7 linked regions of the Homo sapiens genome follow. The protein of the gene in region 1 purifies or fractionates together with the protein of each later gene. This does not show direct contact. Each region holds a gene or a part of one and is shown in the gene's direction. Other genes may lie near its edges.

What was found.
Region 2: the proteins of PPARA (region 1) and ESYT2 purify together in Homo sapiens (co-immunoprecipitation; one large-scale study listed by IntAct). This does not show direct contact.
Region 3: the proteins of PPARA (region 1) and NSUN2 purify together in Homo sapiens (co-immunoprecipitation; one large-scale study listed by IntAct). This does not show direct contact.
Region 4: the proteins of PPARA (region 1) and AKAP9 purify together in Homo sapiens (co-immunoprecipitation; one large-scale study listed by IntAct). This does not show direct contact.
Region 5: the proteins of PPARA (region 1) and SDHA purify together in Homo sapiens (co-immunoprecipitation; one large-scale study listed by IntAct). This does not show direct contact.
Region 6: the proteins of PPARA (region 1) and ACSL5 purify together in Homo sapiens (co-immunoprecipitation; one large-scale study listed by IntAct). This does not show direct contact.
Region 7: the proteins of PPARA (region 1) and RABL3 purify together in Homo sapiens (co-immunoprecipitation; one large-scale study listed by IntAct). This does not show direct contact.

The regions. Positions count from the first base shown.
Region 1 is NC_000022.11:46,233,733-46,238,082, forward strand, and holds part of PPARA (peroxisome proliferator-activated receptor alpha), read left to right. Parts: intron 1-1,400; coding exon 1,401-1,648; 3' UTR 1,649-4,350. UniProt on the Homo sapiens protein: Ligand-activated transcription factor. Key regulator of lipid metabolism. Activated by the endogenous ligand 1-palmitoyl-2-oleoyl-sn-glycerol-3-phosphocholine (16:0/18:1-GPC). Activated by oleylethanolamide, a naturally occurring lipid that regulates satiety.
Region 2 is NC_000007.14:158,735,167-158,739,516, reverse strand, and holds part of ESYT2 (extended synaptotagmin-2), read left to right. Parts: intron 1-395; coding exon 396-494; intron 495-2,337; coding exon 2,338-2,469; intron 2,470-3,908; coding exon 3,909-4,014; intron 4,015-4,350. UniProt on the Homo sapiens protein: Tethers the endoplasmic reticulum to the cell membrane and promotes the formation of appositions between the endoplasmic reticulum and the cell membrane. Binds glycerophospholipids in a barrel-like domain and may play a role in cellular lipid transport.
Region 3 is NC_000005.10:6,598,349-6,602,504, reverse strand, and holds the end of NSUN2 (RNA cytosine C(5)-methyltransferase NSUN2), read left to right. Parts: intron 1-4; coding exon 5-44; intron 45-2,272; coding exon 2,273-2,579; 3' UTR 2,580-3,266; downstream 3,267-4,156. UniProt on the Homo sapiens protein: RNA cytosine C(5)-methyltransferase that methylates cytosine to 5-methylcytosine (m5C) in various RNAs, such as tRNAs, mRNAs and some long non-coding RNAs (lncRNAs).
Region 4 is NC_000007.14:92,107,643-92,111,648, forward strand, and holds the end of AKAP9 (A-kinase anchor protein 9), read left to right. Parts: intron 1-851; coding exon 852-991; intron 992-2,479; coding exon 2,480-2,517; 3' UTR 2,518-3,031; downstream 3,032-4,006. UniProt on the Homo sapiens protein: Scaffolding protein that assembles several protein kinases and phosphatases on the centrosome and Golgi apparatus. Required to maintain the integrity of the Golgi apparatus. Required for microtubule nucleation at the cis-side of the Golgi apparatus.
Region 5 is NC_000005.10:228,320-232,669, forward strand, and holds part of SDHA (succinate dehydrogenase [ubiquinone] flavoprotein subunit, mitochondrial), read left to right. Parts: coding exon 1-14; intron 15-2,556; coding exon 2,557-2,681; intron 2,682-4,350. UniProt on the Homo sapiens protein: Flavoprotein (FP) subunit of succinate dehydrogenase (SDH) that is involved in complex II of the mitochondrial electron transport chain and is responsible for transferring electrons from succinate to ubiquinone (coenzyme Q).
Region 6 is NC_000010.11:112,408,207-112,412,556, forward strand, and holds part of ACSL5 (long-chain-fatty-acid--CoA ligase 5), read left to right. Parts: intron 1-215; coding exon 216-315; intron 316-1,300; coding exon 1,301-1,479; intron 1,480-2,256; coding exon 2,257-2,289; intron 2,290-2,377; coding exon 2,378-2,429; intron 2,430-3,249; coding exon 3,250-3,323; intron 3,324-3,695; coding exon 3,696-3,773; intron 3,774-4,350. UniProt on the Homo sapiens protein: Catalyzes the conversion of long-chain fatty acids to their active form acyl-CoAs for both synthesis of cellular lipids, and degradation via beta-oxidation.
Region 7 is NC_000003.12:120,697,509-120,701,406, reverse strand, and holds part of RABL3 (rab-like protein 3), read left to right. Parts: intron 1-2,833; coding exon 2,834-2,984; intron 2,985-3,898. UniProt on the Homo sapiens protein: Required for KRAS signaling regulation and modulation of cell proliferation. Regulator of KRAS prenylation, and probably prenylation of other small GTPases. Required for lymphocyte development and function. Not required for myeloid cell development.

The DNA.
Region 1 (4,350 bases):
GTATATAGAAAAATGTCCAGTGAGATATATGTTAAACCTATTATGGTGGGATTAAAATTATGAGGGGGGATTTCTATTTTTCAAAAGATTCCTCCTTTTTTTTTTTTTTGAGACAGAGTCTCCGTCTGTCACCCTGGCTGGAGTGCAGTGGCACGATCTCAGGTCACTGCAACTTCCGCCTCCTGGGTTCAAGTGATTCGCCTGCCTCAGCCTCCTGAGTAGCTGAGATTACAGGAACATGCCAGCACACCTGGCTAATTTTTGTATTTTTAGTAAAGATGGGGTTTCACCATATTGGCCAGGCTGGTCTCAAACTCCTGACCCCGGGTGACCCACCCACCTCGGCCTCCCAAAGTGCTGGGATTACAGGCATGAGCCACTGCACCCGGCAATAATTCCTCTCTTTAGAGACTTAATAGTTATAGCCCCAGCCACTCTGGAGGCCGAGGCAGGAGGATTGCTTGAGCCTAGGAGTTCCAGTCCAGCCTAAGCAACAGAGCAAGACCCCATCACTAAAACAATACAAAAACAAGAATTTTAGAAATAAAAACTTAATAATTACATTTACAACCAAAAACAATGAAGATGTTTAAATCCTCATCACTAGCAACCCTGTTAAGAATCATAGTAATGACTGGGTCTGTAAGGGAGCACCGCCTGCTGAACATGGCTCAGGGCAGTATTTTCTGGACCAAGAATCAGGTCTCATGCTTTGAGACTGTCCCAGGATGTCTAGTGCCAGCTACCCCAGGCAGGTCATCTGGTGTGAATGTTGACTCTTCCTGCACCAAGTCTCAGACCTGCCCCACCCTCCTCCCCACTCTGGGTCTCCTGATCTTGGCTCACTGCAATCTCCGTCTCCCAGGTTCAAGCGATTCTCCCACCTCAGCCTCCCGAGTATCTGGGATTACAGGCGTGAGCCACCGTGCCTGGCCTACAAAACCTAGTTCTAACACAATCACTCCTTAAATATGGTGGAACACTTGAAGCTTGATATCTAGTTTGGATTCAAAAGCTTCATTTCCCATATTATGCAAAACTGGTGGTTGTGATCTCCAGAATGTACTGTTCCTCCTACTAGCTCTAATTTTTCTCCCTGACAGGTGGTCATCAGGTAAATCACAAGTGAAAAGGCCGCACCATAAGGTGTACTTAGGGCACTATTGCCGCCTAGTAGTATGAATATTTAGGAAAGAGTACTGGTCCTGTCTGTCCCTACTTCACCTATTGACTTTGGAAAAACCTATGTCTATCTTCCAGTCAAGTTGACAATATCTAAAGGCAGCTCAGTTTTTTTCTAAGAAAGGCCACATAAAATAGGCATGTTTGGTTCCTGAAACTGATAAGCAGTTCTTGGGTGATTATCACACTCAAACCTCTCTCTCTTCTTTCGAGACTAGATCGTCCTGGCCTTCTAAACGTAGGACACATTGAAAAAATGCAGGAGGGTATTGTACATGTGCTCAGACTCCACCTGCAGAGCAACCACCCGGACGATATCTTTCTCTTCCCAAAACTTCTTCAAAAAATGGCAGACCTCCGGCAGCTGGTGACGGAGCATGCGCAGCTGGTGCAGATCATCAAGAAGACGGAGTCGGATGCTGCGCTGCACCCGCTACTGCAGGAGATCTACAGGGACATGTACTGAGTTCCTTCAGATCAGCCACACCTTTTCCAGGAGTTCTGAAGCTGACAGCACTACAAAGGAGACGGGGGAGCAGCACGATTTTGCACAAATATCCACCACTTTAACCTTAGAGCTTGGACAGTCTGAGCTGTAGGTAACCGGCATATTATTCCATATCTTTGTTTTAACCAGTACTTCTAAGAGCATAGAACTCAAATGCTGGGGGTAGGTGGCTAATCTCAGGACTGGGAAGATTACGGCGAATTATGCTCAATGGTCTGATTTTAACTCACCCGATGTTAATCAATGCACATTGCTTTAGATCACATTCGTGATTTACCATTTAATTAACTGGTAACCTCAAAATTCGTGGCCTGTCTTCCCATTCACCCCGCTTTTGACTATTGTGCTCCTTTATAATTCTGAAAACTAATCAGCACTTTTTAACAATGTTTATAATCCTATAAGTCTAGATGTATCCAAAGGTGAAGTATGTAAAAAGCAGCAAAATATTTATTTCAAAGACTTCACTTCTGTTTCCTGAATCTAAAGAAAGACAACATGCTGCTTTTTAATCATAGGATGGAGAATTTTAAAGAACTGTTTGGGCCAGGCACAGTCGCTCATACTTGTAATCCCAGCACTTTGGGAGGCCGAGGCGGGTGGATCACAAGGTCAGCAGATCGAGACCATCCTGGCCAACATGGTGAAACCCTGTCTCTACTAAAAATACAAAAATTAGCCGGGTGTGGTGGCACATGCCTGTAATCCCAGCTACTCGGGAAGCTGAGGCAGGAGAATTGCTTGAACCAGGGAGTTGGAGGTTGCAGTGAGCTAAGACTGCACCACTGCACTCCAGCCTGGTGACAGAACGAGACTCTGTCTTAAAAACAAACAAACAAAAAAAAAATCTGTTAGATAAGCTATCAAAATGCAGCTGTTGTTTTGTTTTTGGCTCACTGTTTTCGTGGTTGTAACTAATATGTGGAAAGGCCCATTTCCAGGTTTGCGTAGAAGAGCCCAGAAAACAGAGTCTCAAGACCCCCGCTCTGGACTGTCATAAGCTAGCACCCGTGGTAAGCGGGACGAGACAAGCTCCCGAAGCCCGCCAGCTTCCTGCTCCACTCAGCTCCGTCCAGTCAACCTGAACCCACCCAGTCCAGCTGTCTGTGGGAATGGTGGTGTTCTTAGGGACAGACTGACACCTTACTTGTCAGTGTTCCTCCGGGCCCCATTTGGCAGCTCCCGTATCTTTTGTTATGTTGCTTTTAAAGATATGATGTTTTATTGTTTTAACTCTTGGTGACAGTAGATGCTCTCTGGAGCGCAGACGAGGCACATGTGTCTTCATAGCCTGGGCTGGGTGGGAGCCAGTCACCCTGCGGATCGAGAGAGGGGGTAGAGTCTTCTTCAAATGGCAGTTTTACTTCAAATGGCAGATTTCACAAGAGTTGGTTATTTTTTACAATGGTTTAGGTTGTTAAGTCTCCTTTGTATGTAAGGTAGTTTTTTCAACATCTAAAATTTTTGTTTTAGCCTTCAAAACCAACTTACCAACCTCAGTCCAGCTGGGAAGGCAGCGTTGATTATGGTAGTTTGTCAAGAATATATGGACCTGGAAACACTTTCTCTCTCTGTCCACCTGGTAGATAAATTGTCCTGTTGAGAATTTTTAGATCTGGACTGGAACTGCCAGGACCACCGCCTCCAGGGAGTCGCTGGGCACCTGGAGGTATCGTCGATGCCTCTCCCCCATCTTTAGAAAATTTGGCTCTTCTGAGGTCATTATTATTTTAAGAATGATTAGGATTGATAAGGGTCCCATGACCAGCATTATGAAAATGCGAGAGTGGGAAGGACACAGTGTGAGACTTCCACTAGAAAAAAGTGAAAGTTAGGGTTAGGACATCCTTTTTTAAAAATTACAAATTTAGTCCGTTTTGGTTTTTGTAATCAGGCTAGGCACAGTGGCTCACACATGGAATCCCAGCACTTTGGGAGGCCGAGGTGGGAGGATCACTTGAGCCCAGGAGTTCGAGACCAGCCTAGGCAACATAGCAAGACCCTGTCTGTACACAAAATTTAAAAATTAGTTCATCGGGGTGGCACACATCAGTAGTCCCAGCTACTCTGCAGGCTGAGGTGGGAGGATTGCTTGAACCCAGGAGGTCGAGGCTGCAGTGAGCTGTGATCTCACCACTGCATTCCAGCCTGGGTGACAGAGTTAGATTCCACCCTCTCCCACCCCGGCAAAAAAAAAAAAAAAAGATGCAATCAAAGGGGCTGTTGGCCAGCAATGGCAGCAGCAGCGGCGGGCAGTCTGCCCAAGTGTCTTAGGAACCAAAAGCAAATAAAAGTGTTTCCATATATGCCACCAGCCAAGTGGCCATCCTAATTCAGAAAGAAGCTAGCCTTTGAGTGTCTGTCATGGTGCATCCGTTTCAGTATTATTTCCTAAAATGAGAAGCCCCTGTGTCAACAAGATCCAGGGGCTGGAGCCCAATGCCAAGCCTGTGTTGTCCCCAGCGACCCTGCAGCTGCTCGCTCTGATGTACCCTGTGCCATTCAAGGAGATGTGGTCCAGGAAAGTGAGCCTCATGGTTTTCAGAGAAGTCATTGTTCTGTTTACATTTTCATAAAACCTGTTTAAAATAGCTCCCCGTCTCAGGCTTTCAGCAGTAACAGTGAGCTGACTGGCAAGTTCGATGTTAGCTCCCGGGACA
Region 2 (4,350 bases), on another chromosome or scaffold:
AAATTAGCTGGGCGTGGTGGCGGGCGCCTGTAATCCCAGCTACTCAGGAGGCTGAGGCAGGAGAATCGCTTGAACCCAGGAGGCGGAGGTTACAGTGAGCCAAGATTGCGCCATTGCACTCCAGCCTAGGCAACAAGAGTGAAACTCCGTCTCAAAAAACAAAAACAAAAGAAATAATGTCAGTTTTGAATAATTAATTTATATTGAACCCTCAAGTAAAATATTCATCTGTTTGACTTGTACCCAGAAGTTTCAAATTATGTTTAAGTTCATGGGTAATTTGACTTCTTTTTGTCTAAATGAATAGAAATTATTTTATCGTGTACAGTGGACCAATGAATCACAACGTTCTCCAGTCTCAGGCAAGCTGGTGACTTTCTGCTCTTTTCCCACAGCGGGACGACCCTGGGACAGTCTCCACTGGGGCAGATCCAGCTGACCATCCGGCACAGCTCGCAGAGAAACAAGCTTATCGTGGTCGTGCATGCCTGCAGGTGGGGGCTGGGGTCCCACGCGCCCGCTGCTGTGCTGCTGAGTGTGGATGCTGGATAGGATGATGTAGACACCGCCTTTAGGATTTCCAAACATCCATTTATGTTTCATTTAGAAAGGACAAAGCAATTAAACCTCTAGAGACGGTGCTCGTAAAGGGTGTCACCACTGCGTATGTCACATGACAACGTTTTGGTCACCGAAGTACAACGGTCCCCTAAGATCATACTGTATTTTTACTGTACCTTTTATGTGTTTAAATACACAAATATGGCTTGGCATGGTGGCTCACGCCTGTAATCCCAGCACTTTGGGAGGCTGAGGTGGGCAGATCACCTGAGGTCTGGAGTTCGAGACCAGCCTGACCAAAATGGAGAAACCCTGTCTCTACTAAAAATACAAACTAGCCACGTGTGGTGGTGCATGCCTGTAATCCCAGCTACTAGGGAGGCTGATGCAGGAGAATCACTTGAACCCAGGAGGCAGAGGTTGCTGTGAGCCAAGATCGTGCCATTGCACTCCAGCCTGGGCAACAAGAGCGAAACTTTGTCTCAAAAAGAAAAAAAAATACACAAATATGTCACAATTGCCTACAGTATTCAGCACAGTAGCATACTGTACAAATGTGTAGCCTAGAGCAGGAAGAGTGTGTGTGTGTGTGTGTGTGTGTGTGTGTGTGTCTGTGTGTGTGTGTGTATTTTTTTTTTTTTTTGGAGACAGAGTTTTACTTTGTCCCCCAGGCTGGAGTGCAGTGGCACAATCTCATCTTACTGCAACTTCCGCTTCTTGGGTTCAAGCAATTCTCCTGCCTCAGCCACCCGAGTAGGTGGGATTACAGGCGTGCACTACCTCGTCCGACTAACTTGTATTTTTAGTAGACACGGGGTTTCACCATGTTGGCCAGGCCTCCTGAGTAGCTGGGACTATAGGTGGAAGCCACCAGGCCTGGCTAATTTTTAATTTTTTTATGGAGACGCTGGTCTCTAATTCCTGGCCTCCCAAAGCACTGGGATTATAGACTTGAGCCACCATGACTGGCCTAATCAGGAAGAATTTATTTTAACTTGTTTGTTATATTAATAAGTATAAAGTCAGGTGACTGTTGCATTAATTGCATTTGTTAACAATGATACTGTGGGCTTACGAACTATTTTCCTTTTATGCAATTTTCTCTGTCCTATTAGTGGTTTAAAATATGATATAAAAATTTGGTGCTTATAAATAGCTGTTGGAAACATAGGAAAATAAAATTAGCACCATTTAGAAAGATGATAAAAATGTAGAGTTCAGTACATCACTCTTGAGAAGTTCATATATTCTTGCCACTTAGATAATGATCGTGGGGGATACTGTTGTAGAGGAGTCTAGCAAAACAATCCCTCCTAGACTTTGTGGTCAGTCAGCAAGCGAAGAATGTGGGGGCCTGTGCAGCTGGGCACCTGACCGCGTTTGCTGCAAAGGAGCAGCCCCCTTCTGGAGGGGTAGGCACTGTGGGGTGGGGGCCTGGCTTTCTTGGCTGTGAGAGAGAAAATGGCAGAAGCATTATGGAAAGACAACCGTCACTCTGTTACAAGCAGAGACCAAGGACTTGGAACGTCCTCCAAACTCTGGGCTTGAGAAATGAAGGCCGAAGTCGCTGCTGAGAAAGCCACTAAGAAAGGAGTTTGGGAGATGCCACCAGGCAGCCGTCGGGGGAGGCAAAAGCGCCTCACGCATTCTGTTCCTTGTTGCTTCTCGGTTTGTAGATAAACATGAAATCAAAGCTTGATAAAGCATATCTGAATGTGCTGCTCATTCTCTTTTTCTCGGTCCTAATACCTCGTCTTATCTGGTTTGTGTTGTAAGAAACCTCATTGCCTTCTCTGAAGACGGCTCTGACCCCTATGTCCGCATGTATTTATTACCAGACAAGAGGCGGTCAGGAAGGAGGAAAACACACGTGTCAAAGAAAACATTAAATCCAGTGTTTGATCAAAGGTACGGTATTTTATCCAGCTGAGGATAGACTGCCCGGTTGAAGTGACGGATTAAGAAGGCCCTAAATGGTGCCTTTGAGTGGCCAAAGCACATAAATCAGCTGTTGAGAAGTTCAATCAGAAACCAACTTTTAGCAAACATACTTCTCAAAACAAATAAGCATTTTGACCTTCATGTAGAAGCTCTAAATACAGTAAATTCAAGTTACAACCCTGTGGACATGTAGACTAGTGATTAAATAAAGATCAGGTTACTGATGGCCCTGAAGAACTCATTTTTGGGGGTTATATCTGTTGACACTTAACTATGTTATCAATTAAAACTGAGAATTTAAGGATACATATATTTTTAATTTTATTTTTAAATAACAGTAAGCCCCAAACATCTTACCGTATGACATATTGGAAAAACAACTGTATTTCCAAAAATAAAAAACATAATGAAAAGAATGGTATTATTGTTCAGCATTTTTGCTCATCTCTTTAGTGGTCTGGCTCAAGAGGGGCTGGAGCCTGCTTCTGTGGTCAGGGTGATTTGGTGACCTCCTAGGAGGGTCTCAGAGACACCCCCAGGGGTCATTGGCCCCCACTTTTAAAGAGCTGCTAATCTGTACCATTTTGGTATCTTAGGTGATTGTCCCCTAGTGCTTCAAAACCCACCCTTGTTTTGGGAAATGATAATAATACAGTTGTATGGTGTCGCTATCTGCTAATTCAGTTTACGTTTCATCTTTAAACATCCTCCTCATTCATTGTACTTTCATACAAGTAGCTTTATGTAAAACACCCATCAGAAACTGGCAGGCGTGCATCAGCCCGATGAGGTTGTGCAGGGTGCTCCTACCCATCCGAGGCATTTAAGCGTCTGGAGACTCCACTTGCCCCCCAGCACGGTGGCCTGGGGCAGGCACCCGCAGCCCGGAGGAGAGACGCCCTGCAGGCACTTTAGTGCAGCGTCTGGCTGAGCATCGGGAGTGCTTTGGAGGCCTTCTCCCTCCTGCGAAGCTGCAAGCACATACTTTTTTTTATTGGAGATGGTGGGAATAGGGCCTGAAGACTAAACCAGACTGAGTGGAAAGCCTGAGTGAGTGGGCTGCTCTGGAATTGCTGTTTTGTCAACATTATCCCACATTTTAATCCCCTGGAAGAGTCAGACATGTTGAGAGACGCTCCTCACCCACCCGTGAGTGAGCCAGGGACCTTGGGACCCAGACATCTATGGGATGCCAGAGCCTTCTTTTATGTGTGGGAAATGAAAAAAATGTTGGTTTTTGAGTCTTCCTGAAATGCCAGATTAAAACATTAGGTAGAAGAACTCAGTTTTATAATAAAAAACAAACATGACATTTGGAATGATCTCATGAGCAGAAATGCCATTTTTAGTTATAAGAAAATACAGCAGAATGATGGATAAAGTAAGGCTCTCGTTTCCTATTTCAGCTTTGATTTCAGTGTTTCGTTACCAGAAGTGCAGAGGAGAACGCTCGACGTTGCCGTGAAGAACAGTGGCGGCTTCCTGTCCAAAGACAAAGGGCTCCTTGGCAAAGTAAGTGCCAAACGAATCCTCAACCAGTTCCTGCAGTTTGTAAAATTGAACATTTACCTGCAGTGCAGTGTTTAGACCATGTCTGTGTAAGTGGAAGGGGCGAACTTACGAGGTCGATGCTTGTTTATAAATCATGGGCTATAAAGACAGTCAAAACATCTGTGCTTTCTGAAGATATTTTAAGTTAAGTCTTCACATTTTTGTTCAAGTATCACATTGAAGGAAAATAATCTCTTACAATTCCATCTCCTCAACTGATGGCTCTGCTCTTTTTCTAAAATTCTTTGGCTTTATTTATGTGAATTTCTTCTACTCTTTGTCCGTATTTCACATTTC
Region 3 (4,156 bases), on another chromosome or scaffold:
CCAGCAAAGGGAAGCATCGTGCTGAAGTATGAACCAGATTCTGCGTAAGTCAGTACACGCCCTGCCCTTAGACACACACGCCTTGTCATTAGCTACAGTGTTCTCGTTGGTGAGGAAAGTGACTTGGGAAGGTGGGAACCTTCTTCAGGCCTTTTGTGATTGTTCCTCAGAAGTAGCCTTGTGAAAACTTCAGAACCAAAATATTCCTGTAGGTCATCATGAAGATGCTGTTTCATAGAACACTCAGCTCAGGCTAAGTGAATTTTTACTTACAGAGAATAAAATGCATAGTACTTATTTTTTAAGCATTAGAAACCAATGAAAATTTCTGTCTTGTACAGAGTAAGTGTGAAGATTGGACAGTTGAGTGAGGTTCCGTTCTTTTGTCCTCATGGCTGGTTCAGCCATGTGTGTTGCTGACATGTTACTGCATCAGGAGTGCTAGGGCCGGAGCATGGGATTTGCTCACGCTTGCACTCACGGTCCCCACGGGACCACTGCTCCACGCTGCTTGCATGTATTCACGCTGCATCCTTGTGGGGGGCCTTGGGGGAGCAGGTGCTGGTTTTGGCAGCACTTGCCAGAGGAGGAAGCCGGGACAGAAAGTTAGGTGGCTTGCCCAGAGCTCCTCAGCTCACGAGTGGCAGAATTCGGATCTCACCTGCAACAGCTCCGTCTTGGTGACATGCAACACCATTTCTGAGAGGAGGAAACAGAATGGGGTCCACGGCTGACTGGGATTTGGGGGAGTGAATAGGTAGAACCACTGTACAGATTTCTTTGGGAAGTTAGTGTTGGACCAGGGATCCAGTGCTAACTTGAAGGAACCACCAAAGCGCAGATCCTGAGGCAGGTGCAAGCTGGGGGTCGGGGCGGGCCCAGCCAAGTAGGGAAGGAGGAGGGATAGGTAAGAGGTTGGCAGGGAGGCCGAGGGGCCACATGTCCTCAGGGTTCAGGCTGTCCGGCTGCCATGTGGAGAGAGGACAGGTGGGGGCTGAGGTGGGAGGGGCAGGAACTTGGTGAGGGAACAACAGATGGATGGGCTGGAGAGGTCAGCGAGGCCGAGCGCATGAGCACCCTGGGGACCTGCTGGAGGCGGATGGTGTCTGGATGGTGAACGGGCAGGAGCATCTAGTGATTGATGGCTTCTGGGTGTTTTTAACGAGAGTTTGAACAAAGACTCAGAAATGGTTTTTAAAATAACAGTCCCATGTGGCCCACATAGAAAATATTGGGATATTTTAAGGTGTGGATTCACTTTTCCATATTTAAACACTTGTTTCTACTTGGTGAAATACACAGGTGACAGGTCAACTTCAGGAATAATGGTTTTTTTTTTTTAAGAAGATGGGAGTTGGGAATTTCTTATATTTTCCTCTCACTTCTTAAAACCACCTTTGTGCCCCTGCTTTACATTAGGAAAAATGGAAAGGTGATTAAACACGGCCGTTAGGAGCCTAAAATCTAGGTCAGAGTCCCGTATGAAAGAAATCAGATAAGTTGAGAGAGGGCGTGTGCAGGTTGGAAATGGTGGCGTCCATCTCTGCTGGGGCGTCGATGCCTCCTGGCTGGACAGGTGGAGCCTGGAAGGTAGGGAGGCTCGGAGCATGTTCAGAGAGGCAGGGATGTTTTTGACTGTGGGTAACACTGCATGCTGGGAACGGAAATGAGCACTGTGTGCCCAGCAGGGCTCAGACTGCCATGTGGGGTCCCTGGAGAAGAAATCACGCTAACACTGAGTATCAAAAGGATGAGTGGTCCTGGGTTCTGCTCTGGCAGCCCTGCTAAGGGCAGAGTCTCCCGGTGGTCCTGGGTCCTGCTCTGACGCCCTGCTAAGGGCAGAGTCTCCCAGCCTCTCAGGAGCTTCAGTCCACTTAGGAAACTTGAGGTGAGCTGCAGGGAGCCTGTGGAGAAACGCTTCTCATTTAGTGGGGTGAGGTGACACGGGGTGGCGGGGACAGTAAGTTAAGTTTGAGAAGGAAGTATGTAGAAAGTGTATGTGAAATCTGTAGATTTGGGGCCTCTACTCCATTGTGAACTTAAAGAGGCAGGGCGAAAGCGAGGGTGAGAATTTTACTCAGGACATGAAGAAGGAAGTCCTTTGAGAAAACCTACCCCTCGGATCCAGATGAAATGTCCTCCCAGTAGTTTTGGGGGTTTTGTGGGTATGGGTTTTCTGTGGTTTTCTTTTTTAAGCAGTTGCATATTACATCTCATTCGATTTAGTTATGGGAATGTTTAATGTTCTACATGAAGCCACTTTCACTTGTAGGAATCCAGACGCTCTGCAGTGTCCCATCGTCTTATGCGGATGGCGGGGAAAGGCCTCCATTCGAACTTTTGTGCCCAAGAATGAACGGCTTCATTATCTCAGGATGATGGGGCTGGAGGTATTGGGAGAAAAGAAGAAGGAAGGGGTTATCCTCACAAATGAGAGTGCAGCCAGCACCGGACAGCCAGACAATGACGTGACTGAGGGACAGAGAGCAGGAGAGCCCAACAGCCCAGATGCAGAAGAGGCCAACAGTCCAGACGTGACAGCAGGCTGTGACCCGGCGGGGGTCCATCCACCCCGGTGAGCAGGCCCAAGGCAGCGGGGGCCCACACCCCTCACACGCAAAACTGGCTTCTTCTGGTCACTGGTGTCTGAAACCAAATCCAGAGCAGCCTGTGGCCTGTAAAGCATATATTTCTAATGACTGCAGACTGGTGGGATCATAGGAGCCTTCTGAATGACCAGGACTGCTTTCTTTGGAGCTGATGAAAATGTACTCTTTTAGCGTGTTAGAAATCACTTGTTTTATTTTGTTTCTTTGGCCAAGCTGGGTCTAGTGTTTCTTTTGCTGGGAATAGACTTTCAAAAGTTGTACTTCTATCAAGAAACAAAACTGCCCTTGCAGAAATTTCAGGTCTTTTGTTAAGCCTGTATTGGTCTTAAGGTGCAGTATTTTTTAAATTATTATTTATAGAAAGAATCTATAAATTCTTGGGGAAGTGTGTTATAAGCTTTAATAATTACATTGAGCTGCACCTCAGTGGTGTGTCATTAACATGCAGTGGGGTTAATATCTGAGGCCTCAGATGACTTTGTGCCTTTTGGAATAAAGGGTAAAATAAACTCTCCCAGAGTAAGAGCTGTATCGTGAATTGTCATACTAATTATTGAGGGGGACTTATGTGCTTTTATTGAATGGAGTGCTTTACAATTTTTATTTTTAAATGGGGTTGGGATCCTTGGAATATTTCAATAAAATTGATAAAATATATACATGTGTGATTCCTGTTTTTGCTCTTAGGAAGCAGAAAGAACAAACTTACTTTTGGCTAAATGGCAGTGTTAGAATACATCCTTATTTTCTCTAGTGAAAGCGGTTTTACTGTGAAGGCTGCTGTCTTCCTGTCTACCTCATTTTGTGTGTTGGTCTGTACAAACACCGACCACACACTGCCTTTGGTGGATTTGTCTCTGGAGTCTCCACTGTGGAATACTTTCAAGCTCTGTGGCGTGAAGAGCTCCTATTTCTCTTTCGCCCACATTCTCCACTGAACATTTCTCTACATTTGCATTTGCATCCTCTGGTGTGCTTGCATGTCACTCATTGTTTTCTGAACCCTTTGACAGTAAGTTACAGACGTGTTCCGTTACCCCCTTGCTCCTGTGGTGTTTCCTGGAAACAGAGGCCCTCTTTACAGCTCGCAGCATAGGCGTCAGAAACGTGGATGCAGGTCACCCTCAAACCAGCAAGCTCGCTCCAGCGGCCCAGTAATGTCCTTTGCAGTCACAATGTCCAATTTTGTCTGGGGTGACACCAGTTGCCTTTGGCTGTCTTGTCTCGAGTTCACTACCGTCAGAAACAGTTCCCAGTCTGTCTTTTATGATTGAGACAGTCTTGCAGGGTACCGGTCAGGTAGTCTGAATGTGCTTCAGTTTTGGTTGGTCTGAAGTGTCCCTGTGATGTGTGCGTTTTTGACAGGAGGACCACAGAGGTGGTGCTGTGTTCTCGCTGCGTCATGCCAGGAGGCTGACGATGTTGGGTTTTCTCTTTATAGTGGTGGTGAAGTTTGTTTTATTATTAGTAACATGGTATCTGTCTGCCAAGTTTCTCCACTGAAAAATTTGTAAGTATTGTGCAAGGAGACATTTCAAGACTATATT
Region 4 (4,006 bases), on another chromosome or scaffold:
AGTTGGAGACTAGCCTGGCCAACATGGTGAAACCCTGTCTCTACTAAAAATACAAAAAATTAGCCAGGCGTGGTGGCAGGCGCCTGTGGTCCCAGCTACTTGGGAGGCTGAGGCAGGAGAATGGTGTGAACCCGGGAGGCGGAGCTGGCAGTGAGCTGAGATTGTGCCACTGCACTCTGGCCTGGGCAACGGAGCGAGACTCTGTCTCAAAAAAAAATACAAAAAAATTAGCCAGGCATGGTGGTGGGTGCCTGTAATCCCAGCTACTCAGGAGGCTGAGGCAGGAGAATCGCTTGAACTCAGGAGGTGGAGGTTGCAGTGAGCCGAGGTCACGCCACTGCACTCTAGCCTGGGCAACAAAGCAAGATTTGGTCTCCAAAAAAAAAAAAAAAGAAAAAAAATATACATAACCTAAGGCTTAATGTAAAAATGTAAAAACCAGTGTTTAAATTTGTAACTGATTTCCAAGGGTATAGCAAACAAGCTGACCAAGTGTTATTTAGTGTATGCTATGGTTAGATATTGGGAAAAGTATTGACTAAAATTGATACTCTGATCATTATGAAAAGCTTAACAGTCTTCATGACAAGATACATTTATACATACCCAATTTATTGAGACCTCTGCCACAAGCATTGTATTGGACATTCTTATGTTGACTTAGTAGCATCTTTGAATTCATTGGAGAGTTGTCTCTTTCTCATCCCAAGCTCCAAAGCTGAAGCTTGGAGGAGATACATTATGTGTGTACAAGTGACCCACCTTTTTGGGGAAGGGAGTGGAGGCAGGTTGGTAACTTATATGCATATTTCTGGATAACTTGATTCATGTACATATTTTTAATCCTTTAGGTACCCAGGCACTCCAGCTGATTTCAATCCTGGTTCTTTAGCATGTTCTCAGCTTCAGAATTACGATCCTGACAGAGCCCTAACAGATTATATCACTCGGCTAGAGGCACTGCAAAGACGACTTGGAACTATACAGTCAGGTGCTCTGAGTTTAACCACATCTTGGCAGCACCACAGTGCGAGACCCACAGCTCCCCTTTCTTTGAAATTCTTTCACACTCATTAGGATAATCAAAGCTTCCAGTTTAGTGCATGAGCTAATTATTAAGTTAGCCAAAGCTTAAACTCTTGTAACCAGCAGAGAAACTGACTTTAAATAATTTAAGTGAAAATATGATTTATCACCCCAGATCCCACTCCTCCCAAAAATGATTTCCTACTATGTTCATTCAGCGGACTGATGACACAAAATGCACAATGAGCACCAGTGTGCAAGGTACTCTGAGTCTACAGAGCCTAACTGGAGAACGTATTCCTAAGTAGCGCATGGCAGAAAGTGGTAAGGCCGTGCCGCAGCACTCCAGCCTGGGCAGCAGAGCGAGACCCTGTCTCAAAGAAAAAAAAAAAAAAAAGAAAGTGGTAAGGCATGCAAATCGGGTGGAGTTAAGGAGGAAGCACTTACTTTAAGCACTTAATGTAACCATTATCCCTGCTACTATATTGTGCTTTTATGTATCATCGAAAAAAACTATCCCATTTAAAATACTTTGTAAGGATTATTTTTTCTTTGTTCAAAAACAAAAAACAAGTCATACTTTAAAATAAAGGTGGATTCCCTGTTCATGGAAGGAAAACCTCTTTTCCCTATCTCACTTCAGTTCACTCCTGATTCAGAGACTTTGAATCATTGAGTAGTTTATCTCTTCCTTCAAGAAATCATTTGTTTACACCCAAGCATCTTGTAGTAATAGGAAACTTTTATTATCATAGCTGAGTTTGTTGGTTTGCCTAGGCTTGTTTTGTTTTGAGCATCCAAATTTCACAAGACCCAGATTTTGAAGACCAAAAGATTTTTCAAAAATGTATGAGGTATAGAACATCCAACTTTGAGAGCACTTTAAAAAAACTCTAAATATTAGTCTCACCTACCTTGCCATAGAGCCAGTCATGGTGATTTTTACATATATATTCAAAATCTCTTAAAAGTCAGCTTAAGTATATGGGCTGGGCGCGGTGGCTCATGCCTGTAATCCCAGCACTTTGGGCGGCCGAGGCAGGCGGATCACTAGGTCAGGAGTTCAAGACCAACCAGTTCGAGACTAGCCTGGCCAACATGGTGAAACCCCGTCTCCACTAAAAATACAAAAATTTGCTGGACATGGTGGCATGTGTGGATAGTCCCAGCTACTCAGGAGGCTGAGGCAGGAGAATCACTTGAACCCAGGAGGCGGGGGTTGCAGTGAGCCAAGATCACACCACTGAATTCCAGCCTGGGCAACAGAGTAACACTCCACCTTGGGGGTAGTGGGGAGAGACTCAGTTTAAGTATGAAGAGGACATTTTAAGGAAAAAAAGGGCTTTAAAAAAATGGAGAATAATAATAATTTCCTTTGTGTGAACTCTGGTGGGTCTGATACAGGTAGCAATGTAATTTGAAATCAGTTGAATTTCCTGTTTTTCTCTCATAGGTTCAACTACTCAATTTCATGCTGGCATGAGAAGATAATCCTTTGAAACATCATTAATTGAAGTGATTTTAAATAGATTTCCTTTTGTAAATCAATGGTTCTTTTGTGCTTTTGTATTGTGAATATTCAATGGGACCAATATGAACACAGCTTATGATTGTATACAAATCCCTTGCCAGCACATGAAAACAAACTGGAATTTGTATATATAAGCATTGTGTATGTATTCATGCACAATAATTATTGAATTACCTGTATATTTGTGGAATGCTAATTTAAAACATTAAATTATAAACCTTGTGTATTTATCAAATGGGTGAAAAGATTAAACTTTTACGCATTACAATACTGCTGAATGTGTAGCTCGAGGTGTCCTGCACTTTTCTTATAAGGCTACTGAAGTTACATGTTTTGCCTAATATATTCTACTGGTGATGAAGACAGATAATATCACTTGTAGAGACCTATTTTTGTATAATGGTAGAAGTTTTGAATTTTATGGGGTATTTTGTCAAGTACTGAAATAAAAATGACTTCACCATTTTCACCACACTGTATTTGAACCTTCTTCATTTTTAACTGAGCCATAGTTCTTGGTACATAGCATCTCATTACTTATGTCAAATATGTAGGAGTGAGAGATTCAGAGAAAGTTGTCCTAATCTTAGAGTTAATACTGTTGAAAGTTTTCCATGTGTCTTTGTATCAACTTTACATCTACATAGTGTTTTTTAAAAGCTATATTGGTATTTCATGATTAATCAGTATTTACTATATTACAGTTAGTGTTACTTGTTTCCAAAGATGTGTTCTCACAAATCCATGGCCCACTAAAAAGATGAAGAAATCATTAACTCAAAAGATCTTAATCACATTGCAGCCGAATTAAACAGTATCCCTGTTGTCCAAGCCAAATTCAGACTGGGAGGCTCTCACAGAGATAATACAGATCGCAATGTTATTTCTCATCTGGAGTCCTCCTCAATAACATGGCAACTCACTAAAACAGCAAGAGGACTAGTATTTGATGCTTACACCTGGAGGATTTTGTCTTATTATTTGATGTTCCATGATTTATACCAACACAAACAGGCATGGTAGAAAGTTGTACATGCTTGAACATTTCTAATTTCAGTCATCCCTCGGCATGTGTGGGGGATTAGTTCCAGGATCCCCCTTGGATATTACAGTCCGCGAATGCTTAAGTCTCTTATAAAACAATGTGCTATTTGCAGATAGTCTACATACATCCTCCTGTGTACTTCAAATCATCTCCAGATTATTTGATACCTAATACAATGTGAACATTATGTAAATAGTTGCTAATACTGTATTTTTTTATTGTGGGGTTTTATTTTTAGTATTTTGAACCTGCAGTTGGTTGAATCAGAGGATACAGAACCCACAAATAAAAGGAGCCAACTATACTTAAATTTTCCACATTAGAAGCTGGGTTCCAATAAGAGGAATTCTAAAAATAGCAAACGTACTCTAAAGCAGTTAGTTGAAGGGGCAGGTTGTGGGTAA
Region 5 (4,350 bases), on another chromosome or scaffold:
GTTGTTGCCACAGGGTAGGAATCTCATTTCTACTTTATTTTGTTTATAAAAATGAATAAATTTCATTTAGAGTTTCTTTATTTTAATGAAAATAGAGGCATTGTAGAATAACGGTTTAGACACAGGCCTTGATATAACCATGTGAGGGTGATGGCCTTTCCCAGCCGTGGTTCCTCACCTGTAAAGGGTGAGGACAGGAGCACCTGCCTCAGGGTGAGAAAGCATGGTCCTCAGTAGATGGTAGTGGTTGCCCTCAGGTTCACAGCTTACCTCTCCCAATTTAGATGAGGGAACTGTGGCCCAAAGAGTCAACATGGGGTTTTCTGGCAAAATCTCTCTTGTTTTAGTGGGTACTGTATTGATACTGATTCCTCGGGTGGGTAAGTCCTTCTTCTCCACATGATGAAAATAAGTAACTTTAATTTTATACACTGTCAGTTACTTTAACCATTTTAAAAGTTAAAAAGTGTCAGTACAGCCAAACAAAAAATCAGCAAAACTACAGGTTGGGAAGAAATATTTTCCAAACCATATGTGTAATAATATCTTACTATCTAAAATAGCAAAAAAAAAACCCTACTAAAAACAACCTACTAAACCCTACTAAAAAACAACCCTACTAAAAATGGGCAAAGGACTTGAATAGATATTTTTCTAGAGAAGACATACAAATGGCCAATTGATGTATGAAAAAATGCTCAACGTCACTAAGCACCAGAGAAATGCAAATTAAAACCCCAATGAGATATCATCTCATCTCGCTCCAGTTAGAATGACTGTTACCAAGAGGACAAAAGAGCAAGTGTTGGTGAGGATGTGGAGAAAAGGGAACCCTGTGTGCTGTTGGTGGGAATGTAAATTAGTACAACTATTACGGAAAACTCTGGAGGTTCCTCAAAATTCATAGGACTACTATGTGCTCCAGCAACCCCATTTCTGGGTGTATATCCAAAGGGCATGAAATCAGAAGCTCAAAGAGACACCTGGACCCTATGTTCATTGCAGCATTATTCACAATACCCGAGATATGGAAACAACCTAAATATGTGTTGGTGTTTAATGACAATGTGGTGTGTATACACAACTGAATATTATTCGGCTATGAAAATGAAGGAAATCCTGTCATGTGTGACAACGTGGATGAACCCAAAGTCATTATGTTAAGTGAAACGAGCCAGGCACAGAAAGACAGATACTGCATGTCACTCATGTGGAATCTAAAACAGTCACAACTCACAGAAACAGAGTAGGACAGTGGTTGCCAGGGGCTGGGGGAATGCAGACTGTGGCGATGCTGATTAAAGGTGTAACTTCCCGTTACAAGGTGAAGTTCTGAAGGTCTAATATACAACATGGTGGCTATAGTTAACATTATACAGCATGGTGGCCAGAGTTAACATTATACAGCATGGTGGCTATAGTTAACATTATACAGCATGGTGGTTAGAGTTAACATTATACAGCATGGTGGCTAGAGTTAACATTATACAGCATGGTGGCTAGAGTTAACATTATACAGCATGCTGGCTATCGTTAACATTATACAGCATGGTGGCCAGAGTTAACATTATACAGCATGGTGGCCAGAGTTAACATTATACAGCACGGTGGCTAGAGTTAATATACAGCATGGTGGCTATCGTTAATATTATACAGCATGGTGGCTAGAGTTAACATTATACAGCATGGTGGCTAGAGTTAATATTATACAGCATGGTGGCTATCGTTAATATTATAACTTGAAATTTGCGAAGATAGTAGACGTTAGGCGTCTGTATCTCCAAAAAAAGGATAATTGTATGAGGTGATAGATGTGTATTAACTTGATTGTGTCATCATTTCACAAAATAAATCATCACGCTGTACACCATAAATATATAGTTTTTTTTTTAAATTCATCAATCATACCTCAGTAAATCTGGGGGAGAAAAAAATCCATAAAAATTTTAAAATTTTCATTATAAAAGTAGTATATGCTTATTGGGGAAACCTTTTGAACAGCACAAAGCTAAAATACAAATAGGGCCAGGTGTGCAGTGGCTCACGCCTGTAATCCCGGCACTTTGGGAGGCCAAAGTGGGAGGATCACTTGAGGTCAGGAGTTCGAGACCAGCCTGGCCAACATGGTGAAACCCCATCTCTACTAAAAATACAAAAATTAACTGGGCGTGGTGGTGCACACTGTAATCCCAGCTACTCGGGAGGCTGAGGCGGAAGAATCACTTGAACCTGGGAGCCGGAGGTTGCTGTGAGCCGAGATCGCACCACTCTACTCCAGCCTGGTCAACAGAGTTAGATCCTATCTCAAAATAAATAAATAAAATACAAATGGAAGTCCTTTCTTTGATCCCAGGCTTCTATCCTACCTGTGCAGGGTAGCAGCACCAGTGGCGCGGCCCCTAGTGATATGTGTGGGGTGTGCGTGAGTAGGGGGTTGTGTGTGCACAGCACTGAGAAGACGGTGCTGGGGGCTGCCGTGTCCATTCTGTGATCTCACCAGATAGGAGGTCCAGATGTGGGCCGCTGTGTGCAGTCACTGCTCTCTATTGTTTCCAGAGGCTACGGGCGCACCTACTTCAGCTGCACGTCTGCCCACACCAGCACTGGCGACGGCACGGCCATGATCACCAGGGCAGGCCTTCCTTGCCAGGACCTAGAGTTTGTTCAGTTCCACCCTACAGGTAGGGCAGGACGCCTTGCCCGGCAGGTGTTTGGCTTGTGTGTGTCTTGTAAGCATGTGATGCCTACTCATTGCTCTTCCATAGTTTTATGTAATAACATGGTTTTGAAGATCAGCTTCCTCAGCTCTCAGGTCCTAACTTCAACGTCATTTACCTAAGGAGACTTTTCCCACACTCCCCTTCCCCTAAGGCAGTTTGGGCCACCGTCTTATGTATTTCTCAAGAGCGCTAAACCCTGCCTTGGTGATACTTAAGCCAGCAGTAAAGCAGGGATTGAGGCCGAGCACAGTGGCTCACTCCTGTAGTCCCAGCACTTTAGGAGGCCAAGGCGGGCGGATCACCTGAGGTCAGGAGTTCGAGACCAGCCTGACCAACATGGTGACACCTCGTCTCTACTAAAAATACAAAAATCAGCTGGGCGTGATGGCGTGTACCTGTAATCCCAGGTACTTGGGAGGCTGAGGTGGGAGGAATGCTTGAACCTGGGAGGCAGAGGTTGCAGTGAGCCGAGATCGCGCCACTGCACTCCAGCCTGGGCAACAGAGTAAGACTCCGTCTCAAAAAAAAAAAAAAAAAAAGTAAAGCAGGGATTGTTCAGTGTCCCTCTTCGCAACGAGGTCGTCAGCTCCTCGGGCAGGCAGGTCTTCTCGTTAGCTGTGGTGCTCCATGCCCAGCACATGGTAGGGTCTCCACCGGGGTTTACTGAGTGAACATTCTGAGAGCTGGGAGAATGCCATGGAACCGAGAAGCAGCACAGGCAGACTTCAGCTTTGTAGGAGAACACGGAGCTTCTGTGACAATGGGATGTAAAGTTAGGACGCAGCCGTGACAGAACCCCATGTGACATTGGGCGCTGGGCTCAGCCCACGTGACCACTGAGAGAGCTTGTCGTGGGGAAGATGAGCTCGTCTTGGGGACGTCTGACGGTTGAGGTTACGAATGTGCAATTCGGAGACATTAACTCAGAAATGACAGTTGAAGTCTTGAGTTTGGAGGAGGTTCTTCAGAATGAGTCAGAGACAGACACACACCTGCCTCTTGTTTGAGGTGACTTGTCCTATACTTTTCTGGGTTGCTTTTCTGACCTGTGGACGATGGAGACCTCTGAAGTGGTGCCAAAGAACCAGACCTGTGTCTTCTCTTTCTCTGTCAGTGTCAGCTTTCTGATCCCTGGAAGGGATGAAAATAAGAAATGAATTTGTTGTAGTGTTTTTTTTTTATTTGTTTCGAGATGGGGTCTTGCTCTGTTGCTCAGGCTGGAGTGCAGTGGAGCAATCTTGACTCACTGCAGCCTTTGTCTCCCAGGCTCAAACGATCCTTCCACCTCAGCCTCCCAAACAGCTGGGACTACAGGCATGTGTTACCATGCCCAGCTAATTTTCGAGGGTTTTTTCGTTTTTGGTAGAGACGGGATGTCACCGTTTTGCCCAGGCTGGTCTCAAACTCCAGGGCTTAGGCCATCCTCCTGCCTCGGCCCCTCAGGGTCCTGGGATTATAGCCATGAGCCACTGCACCCGGCCTGTTGTATTTTTTATTACTGTTTTTAATGAATAAAATGTCACTGAGCCCCTGAATTCCCTCTGTAATTTGCTTAGAGCTCCACTGCTCATGCTTTGTCTTCAGTATGTGAGAAGTAACCACAGAAAAAAGAGCATTGAAACTTAGAAAA
Region 6 (4,350 bases), on another chromosome or scaffold:
GAGGATTGCTTGATCCTGGAAGGTTGAGGCTGCAGTGAGCTATGATCACACCACTGCACTCCAGCCTGGGCAGCAGAGTGAGGCACTGTCTCAAAAAAAAAAAAAAAAGCAAAACAAAACAAGACAAAAAACCAGACAGCATTTGTTGGCTGAATGACTGAACTGGTACTCTTCAGTGTGCCCTCCAGTCCTTACTTGAACTTCTCTCTGTACAGTGGATCATCTCCGAATTGGCTTGTTACACGTACTCTATGGTAGCTGTACCTCTGTATGACACCTTGGGACCAGAAGCCATCGTACATATTGTCAACAAGGGTAAAATTTTGCTGTTACATTACAACTTGATTCTTTCTCAATGCTGAGTATTTCTTCAATTTCTGCTTTTTTGTTTATTTGTTTGTTTGTTTAAGCAAACTTGAAATGCTGTGGTCGGAAAATGTTCAAGTCTTTCTAGTTTTGTAGTACTTAGGATATAATTTTCAGGAAAGCTACAAAAAGCCCATGAAGCAGAGATACACACAGAAAGAAGTTTCAATGACATGCGTCAGGGTGACATGGTATGATGATATAGAGACAAGACTACTCACTCTGAACACACTAGATAAAAGCCCAGAGAGTGAGCTTAATTGACTTAATCACAGTAAAGCTACAGATTTAATTTCCTACCTTTGTAAATCCAAGTCAATACAGTTAACCAGCATGTACCAATGTCCATGGTGAGTCTGCAGAAAATAATTGTCGTTGTTAGAGAAACAAGTCCAAATTTGATGGGCAAGTAACAGCCCTTTCACATATCCAACATGTTACCTTCTGTCATGGGACTAGTAGATTAAGTGAGTAAGTCCATTTGCACAGTAAACATCATTTGAAACTTTAAACATGCATCAAAGCAAATGCTAAAATTTAGAATTGTAAAATACTTGTCAGCTAAAAATCCTATTTGCCCCCTTCTTTTTCTTCTATTCCCTACTATCCTCCTCAAATAAAACAGTGATAGAACCACACCTCAGTAACCTGTTTAGGTTATCTGAATGACTTCTTAAGCAGAAGGAATTCTGTGGTTCCTCTAGAAACTGTAAAATCTGCTGGCACAGTTCAAGAACATGTGCTTCTGTTTCAGTTAAGTTCATTTATCATCAATGGAATGTTTCAGGTTGTACATTATAAATCTGATTTGCAGGTGTAATCTCCTTTGGACACCTGTTAGCTTTGAAAACTTTTAAAACCTCTTCCTTCTTGCAAGGCAATCAGGTACTTAGCAGAGAGAGGGAATGACCTCTGGTTCTATTTTGGCTTCCAGCTGATATCGCCATGGTGATCTGTGACACACCCCAAAAGGCATTGGTGCTGATAGGGAATGTAGAGAAAGGCTTCACCCCGAGCCTGAAGGTGATCATCCTTATGGACCCCTTTGATGATGACCTGAAGCAAAGAGGGGAGAAGAGTGGAATTGAGATCTTATCCCTATATGATGCTGAGGTATGGATCTGAAATTTAGCTTGCAGCTCCAATGCTTGTCCAACACCTTGGGCAACTTGCAAGATACCTTCCCAAGAGGACAGTGTTCTTGTTCTCCAGGGGTGGCACGTGAGGAGTAGATTAGACTCATGCTGTGAAGCTCTGAGAATAATTTCCACAAGACAACTTTGAAACTCATGCCAGGAGAGGACAAAGTTCTGTGGCCAGCTGTATGGACTTCTAAGTGGATAATATATAAATAGGGGTTTAGTAATAGTTAAAGGATGTGGCTCCTGGAGCCAGGCTGCTTGGGTTCGCATGCCAGCTCCACATCTGTTAGGCAACCTTGGGCAATCTCATCTCCCTTCTCTCGGTCCGTAAAATGGTGATAAAAATAATCACTACCTCACAGAGGTCTTGTAAAGAGTTAGCTTAATTCATATATGTAGATTTCTCAGGACAGTGATGGATATGTAATAAGCTCTGAAAATGTTAGCTATTCATTTCTTTCAAAAAAGATTTAGTTAGGGCCCTAGATGACTGAAACTTAAGAGTACAATGGGAAGTTTGAACATGCAATCTACCCTCTATAGGTAGATGATTTTCTAGAGAAATCTTATGCTCTTCCCTGGGGCTTCCATTGTTCCTGAATGTTGGCTTCTGGTCCTGATCCAGGTTGGAATTTTGCTTATATTCCCATAGAGATGTTCTCACGGGAAAGGGAGGGAGAGGGCCACATTTATCACAGTCTGTCCATCTCAACTAATGTCTTTCTTTCTTGGTTTTCCATTCACATAGAACCTAGGCAAAGAGCACTTCAGAAAACCTGTGGTAAGTTTTCTTCTGCCTGAATTTGAGCCTTGCCATAGTCAACTCTCAAAGTTCATGGTGGAATAAGCCCTTGTGCTTCCTCCTCCAGCCTCCTAGCCCAGAAGACCTGAGCGTCATCTGCTTCACCAGTGGGACCACAGGTCTGTGCCCATGAAACTGAACCTTAGACCCCTGGTCAGCCAAGAACATGGCTTCAATTCTTGGCCACTGGTAGGCTGGTAAATACTCCCTCTAAAGAGCCCTATACTTAGGGGCTCACAGCCTAAGGCTTCTAAGTGTGAATTCCCAAATGGAAAAACATAAACATAAGTAAATACACTTTATTTAATATATTGGGAGGTGTTTATATTCAATAGATTTCAGGGGTCTTAAAGATGATGTCAGAAAGTCCTTTCCCCCGCCCCCACCAACCCACCACTCTCTTGATTTGACACCGCTGGAATGGTTTCATTCAATCAAGATAACTCAGTGATAGTTCTCCATAAAGGGCTTCAACCCCACCCTACATCCACCCATCTGTTAGAATGCTTAATAGTTTTTAATGTGGTCCATCATGGTCTACAGTTATATTCTTTCTAGTATGCCCAGTTTATAAGGTTTATAACCATATCACTATATAATATTGGTAGATCTGGAATTCCAAACATATAAACAGCATGAGATGTGGGGCAGAGGGACAAGGAGGGTTAACTTGAATTTTTCTTTGCAGCTGTGCTTCTATCTGAAATCATGGCTGTGCTCTGCATAGTAGTAGAAGGCCAACGATGCATTCAGCAGTAGAATCTCCGGGGGCATTAATTATTCCTAAACAGAGGCATATACCATCCACAAAAAGACACAGTGACAGGAAATGCTCTTGGCCTTCTGGAATAAAACCAATTGAATCTAGTTTCTTTCAAGGCCAAAGGCTACCTATTAGCTACATAAAGTATCTTTCTCTCCACCTCTTATTTCCTACAGGTGACCCCAAAGGAGCCATGATAACCCATCAAAATATTGTTTCAAATGCTGCTGCCTTTCTCAAATGTGTGGAGGTCAGTGGTCAGTTGAAAAAGAGGCTCTCATTAAAATGTGAATCTGTCATAAGATTTTTATTTTTGAGGTTAGAGCAGGCAGACACACACACACACATACACACACACACACACACACGTTAAAGGCTGGAGTGTGGACAAACACCAGCGTGTTCTTTGTTTAGAGGACTGTACATTTTCAAGCGTTGGTCTTTTAGGATCACTGCAAATTTCTACACTATATGCAGTTCAAGGCATCTCAGATCTACACAGTGTACCGCCTATACAGCTGTCTGTGGTAGTCCTGGGAGGAGGTAGTTTTAAAATCTCCATTGGAATTGAAAGTTGGCATTAATCTCATGTTGCCTCCTCTTACTTCCCTGGCCTACATAGCATGCTTATGAGCCCACTCCTGATGATGTGGCCATATCCTACCTCCCTCTGGCTCATATGTTTGAGAGGATTGTACAGGTGAGTGTTCTGTGTTCCTAGCAGTATGTGGCAAGGGGGTCCTGACTTGCTATCACATGTTTATTCCAAAGGCAGCTACACAGTATTTACTGTTCTTTCTCCGGTGTGAGAGGTGCAGGCAAGGAGTTGGCTCATGGGAGCCCTAATCATGGCATGGCCCCTCATTTCCTGCAGAGTCTTCCTCTGCTAAGTCTGCATGTGTCCAGGGAGGATAGTACTTGCTCCTGCCTTCATGGGGGTGTGTGAGTCTAGTGACATCACAGCTAGGAGCTTACTATCTATCTGCCCTTAATTCTGAGCTGACACAAGACATTGTCTTCTTTTTAAATTTTATTTTGGTTAGAATTTTTGAAAAGATCTAGGATTAGAGAAAAGGAAGTTCCCTACAGAGGATCAGGGAAGGAGCATTTGATCTACATAAGGTGTGAGATGTCCCCCGCGCCGGTTTTTGCACACCTGAGTGTGTAAGGTGGTGCTGTCAGCATGGTGCATACCGGAGGAGGTCTGCTCTTCTGTGAGTGGACTCCAGGCTTTTCAGGCTATTTTGAGGCTGATTTGAGAACCAAGAGCCATGTCA
Region 7 (3,898 bases), on another chromosome or scaffold:
AGATAAACCTGCAAATGTATAAAACAACCTTAATACATTGGTGTGCTTTGTTGGTGCATTATTGTATAGCATCAAAAAATTTGGAAACAACCCTAGTGTCCGAGCAACGAAAGATTCATTGAATAAATAATGGCATATCCACATACTGGAGTAGTATTCAATGTTTAAAAAAGAATCAGGAAGATCTCTATGAACTAAAATAGAAAGATCTACAGAGGGTACATTATTAGGTTTAACAAATCAAAATGCAGAGAATATATATCGTATACCTCCTATTGTATAAGAAAGAAAAGAAATAATATGTATTTATATTTGGATAAAGAATCAGTGAAAAATAAGAAACTAATAAAAATGGTAACCTATAGGGGGCCAGGGGAGATGGGTGGATGGGTACAGTGGTAGGAGCAAGACTGCTTAGCATATATCTTTTATATCAGTTTGAGTTTTTAGCCATATTTAAACAATTTAGGTAAATTTTATATTATGTAGTTTTTACCACAATAACTTTTTTTAACTTTTTATTATAGAAAATTTTAAACATATGTAAATACAAAGAATGGAAAATGAACTCCCATATACCCGTTGCCTAGTTTCAACAATTATCAACATATAGCTAGTCTTGTTTCATCCATATCTCTACCCACTTTCTATCTTCTCCCACTCTCAACTGGATTATTTTGAACCAAATGTTAAAACATCATATCATTTCATCCATATATACTTTAAAACATAAGGGCTTTTTTTTAACATGACACCATATAATTATCACAGCTAAAACTTTAATAATAATTCTTTAATAACCAAATATTATTTTAATTTCCCCAATTGTCTCATAAATGTTATAATTGATTTTTTCGAAATAGTATCTAAATAAGGTCCACTGGTTGTATTTGGTTTCTTAAGTATCTTTTAATCTTAGGTTCTCCCTTTTTGGTTGTTTTTTTTCCAACCTCCTAGCACTTTATTTGTAGAAGAAGATGGCTGTTTGTCTTGTACAGTTTCCTATATTCTGGATTTGCTGATTGTCTCCCTGTATTGTCTTTTAAACTTGTTTCTCTGAATTCTAAATCTTCTCTGAAGTGATAATTAAATATAGTGGTCTGAAAGATGCAAGTTTTTTTGTCTTTATTTTTCCACCCAGTATTATGCATATAATATGATACCTGGCTGTGTGTCTCTTTGTGATGTTAAGGAGCTATCAGCCTTATCCATCCATGATAAAGTTCTTCAGAAGTTTACCAAAGAAGATTTCAAGATTAAATTTTAAATTGGATGCTGCAAGATTTTATGAAAAAGTTAAAAGGAAAGCTAAAAAGAGAAATAAGAGAGCAAACTATATATGTATGCTTTATATGTGTCAGTGTGCAAGGAATTGTGCAAGACTATATGAGAGATGTATGTACATCAAAGATGATATTTGATAGAAGATATGCAAAACTTTGTATGTGAGACAGAAGGAAACAGTCCTAAAGGAAAGACACTCTCAAAACTTCATTCCCTAACAAAGCGAATTGTAGCTTTGAACCATGTCTCTTTAATTAGAGTTGCTGTTGATATGAATAATCAAAGGTCTTGATCATGCTATTATTGGCTTTGATGCAATAAATAGAATGGTAATATTTTTGTGAGATGGGAGGTTGTATAGTAAAACACTTGTGTTCCGAGGCTGAACAGTTTGCTGAGGCGCTGTAAGATTATTGTGAAGGGCATAAATACTTAGTAACTTTGCCCCCTACCCCAATTTAGAATTTCTGTAAGAGAAAGAAAAGTAGTGTTAAAGGAAGAAAAAAAGCTATGCTCGACTGGGTTGTAGTGATTGGATTATGCAATATTGATTTACTGTCATAAATTGTGCACAACCAGATTTTGCTGACTGTTGTAAGTTGAGCTTATAACGTGTCAGAAATCCAAATCTGTTTTATTTCTAATATGTGAGTAGAATTTAAATTAATTCAACAGCAATGGCCTCTGTGTTCTTTTCAGTAATGAGAAGTATCATTTACATCACCACTCTGTTCTTTGGATAAATAAATTTTTTAAAAAATAAGGATTGTAATAGCCAGTGATCCAAGGCCACTAACCCTAAGTGGTTCTTATTGCCCGTCCTCTATCTCCCATGGCTCTCATTTCAGGAAACAACTACTTGGTACTAAGTTCTTTCCTTTTACTATTCATTTTGCATTTCAGCTGTTTCCTTCCATTTCCATGTGTTTAATCCACCTTTCCCAGGCTATAGTATCACCTATATTTGATTTATTCTAGGCTTCAGCTTCCCTATTTCTATTTTCTTATTCTTCTTATTTCTTTACTATTCAGACAGAAATGTGTATTGTAGATATAGAATTAATGCATACCCCAAAAGGTACCCAAGAAGCTTGCCATTTTCTCTTCTAGCACAAGGCTTGAGTGCCATGCTAGGCTTTTGGGTTTTTGCTACGATGAGGCTTAAATCCACTCTCTGCTTCTACTCTGAAATATTCCTGAGCTGTTATGTTAACCTTAGAAGACACAGCTACATTGGAAGTTAAGTCCACTGACTGTAATATACTTGATGGGCACTTAGTTGTTCAATTATTCAGTATTGTTCAATATTCAATAAAAACATGGGACCAAATTTTGAGAAGTTAGATGAATAGCTGGAATCTGATGATGAGGATGGATTGATAAAAGAACAAGTAGATGGAAGAAGTTGGAAGGAAAGTAGGTTTGTAGGTGAAGGCAGCAAAAATCAGTTAATTTTCAGTAAAATAGTGTAACTTAGTTGCACTTAAATATTACACATCTACACCAGAAAGATACATTCTATTCACCTCTTCATTATTATTTATCACAGGGATTATGATCAAGAACAGTTTGCTGATAACCAAATACCACTGTTGGTAATAGGGACTAAACTGGACCAGATTCATGAAACAAAGCGCCATGAAGTTTTAACTAGGACTGCTTTCCTGGCTGAGGATTTCAATCCAGAAGAAATTAATTTGGTATGTATTTTCACTAATGCATGCTTGTATTATTATCGGGTAAAGACAAAACTGAAGACATATTCAAATAATATATTCTAGTGAAAGAAGCTTTATACTTGAAATCAGGCTATTTGGATTCTAGTCTAAACGTAGTCAAGATTGGAATCAACATATCTAGACTGAGAGATGTGCACAGTCACTTCAGCCTTTTATGTTGGTCTGTTGGAATGTTCCAACTTTATTCTATGAATAATTTAAATCATAGGCTTCTTTTTTTGAAACAGAGTCTCGCTCTGTCGCCCAGACTGGAGTGCAGTGGCGCGTTCTCAGCTCACTGCAGCCTCTACCTCCTGGGTTCAAGCGATTCTCATGCTTAGGCCACCTGAGTAGCTGGGATTACAGGCATGTACCACCATGTCCAGCTAATTTTTTAAATATTTTTAGTAGAGATGGGGTTTTGCCATGTTGCCCAGGCTAGTCTTGAACTCTTGACTGGATTTGCCCTCCTTGGCCTCCCAAAGTGCTGGGATTACAGGCGCGAGCCACTGCACCTGGCCCATGGGCTTTTTCTTGAGAAAGGTTTTTAAAATCACACCAAAATTAAAATAAATTGATTAAAGTGGCACTATAAGCATATTATTCTTGCTTTTAAAAAGCCTCTTAGCTTCTTAAACTACAAATTTTACCTTAAAGGGCAACGTAACAAATACATGAAAAAATTGCAAACCTTAAACTAGGAGTGCTTCATAAGGACTAATTTATGTACACTTATGCATATATAGAGGATTGAGTCCCTTGATGAGATAACTAGCTCAATGAGAACTGAGCGCGTAAAAAAGCTAAGAAATGGTTGTCATGTAAGCCTGTTAGGATCCCAGAAAAAGATCCTGGCCAGCAATTTCAGTCATGGTCATGTTGTTCACAAATAGGAT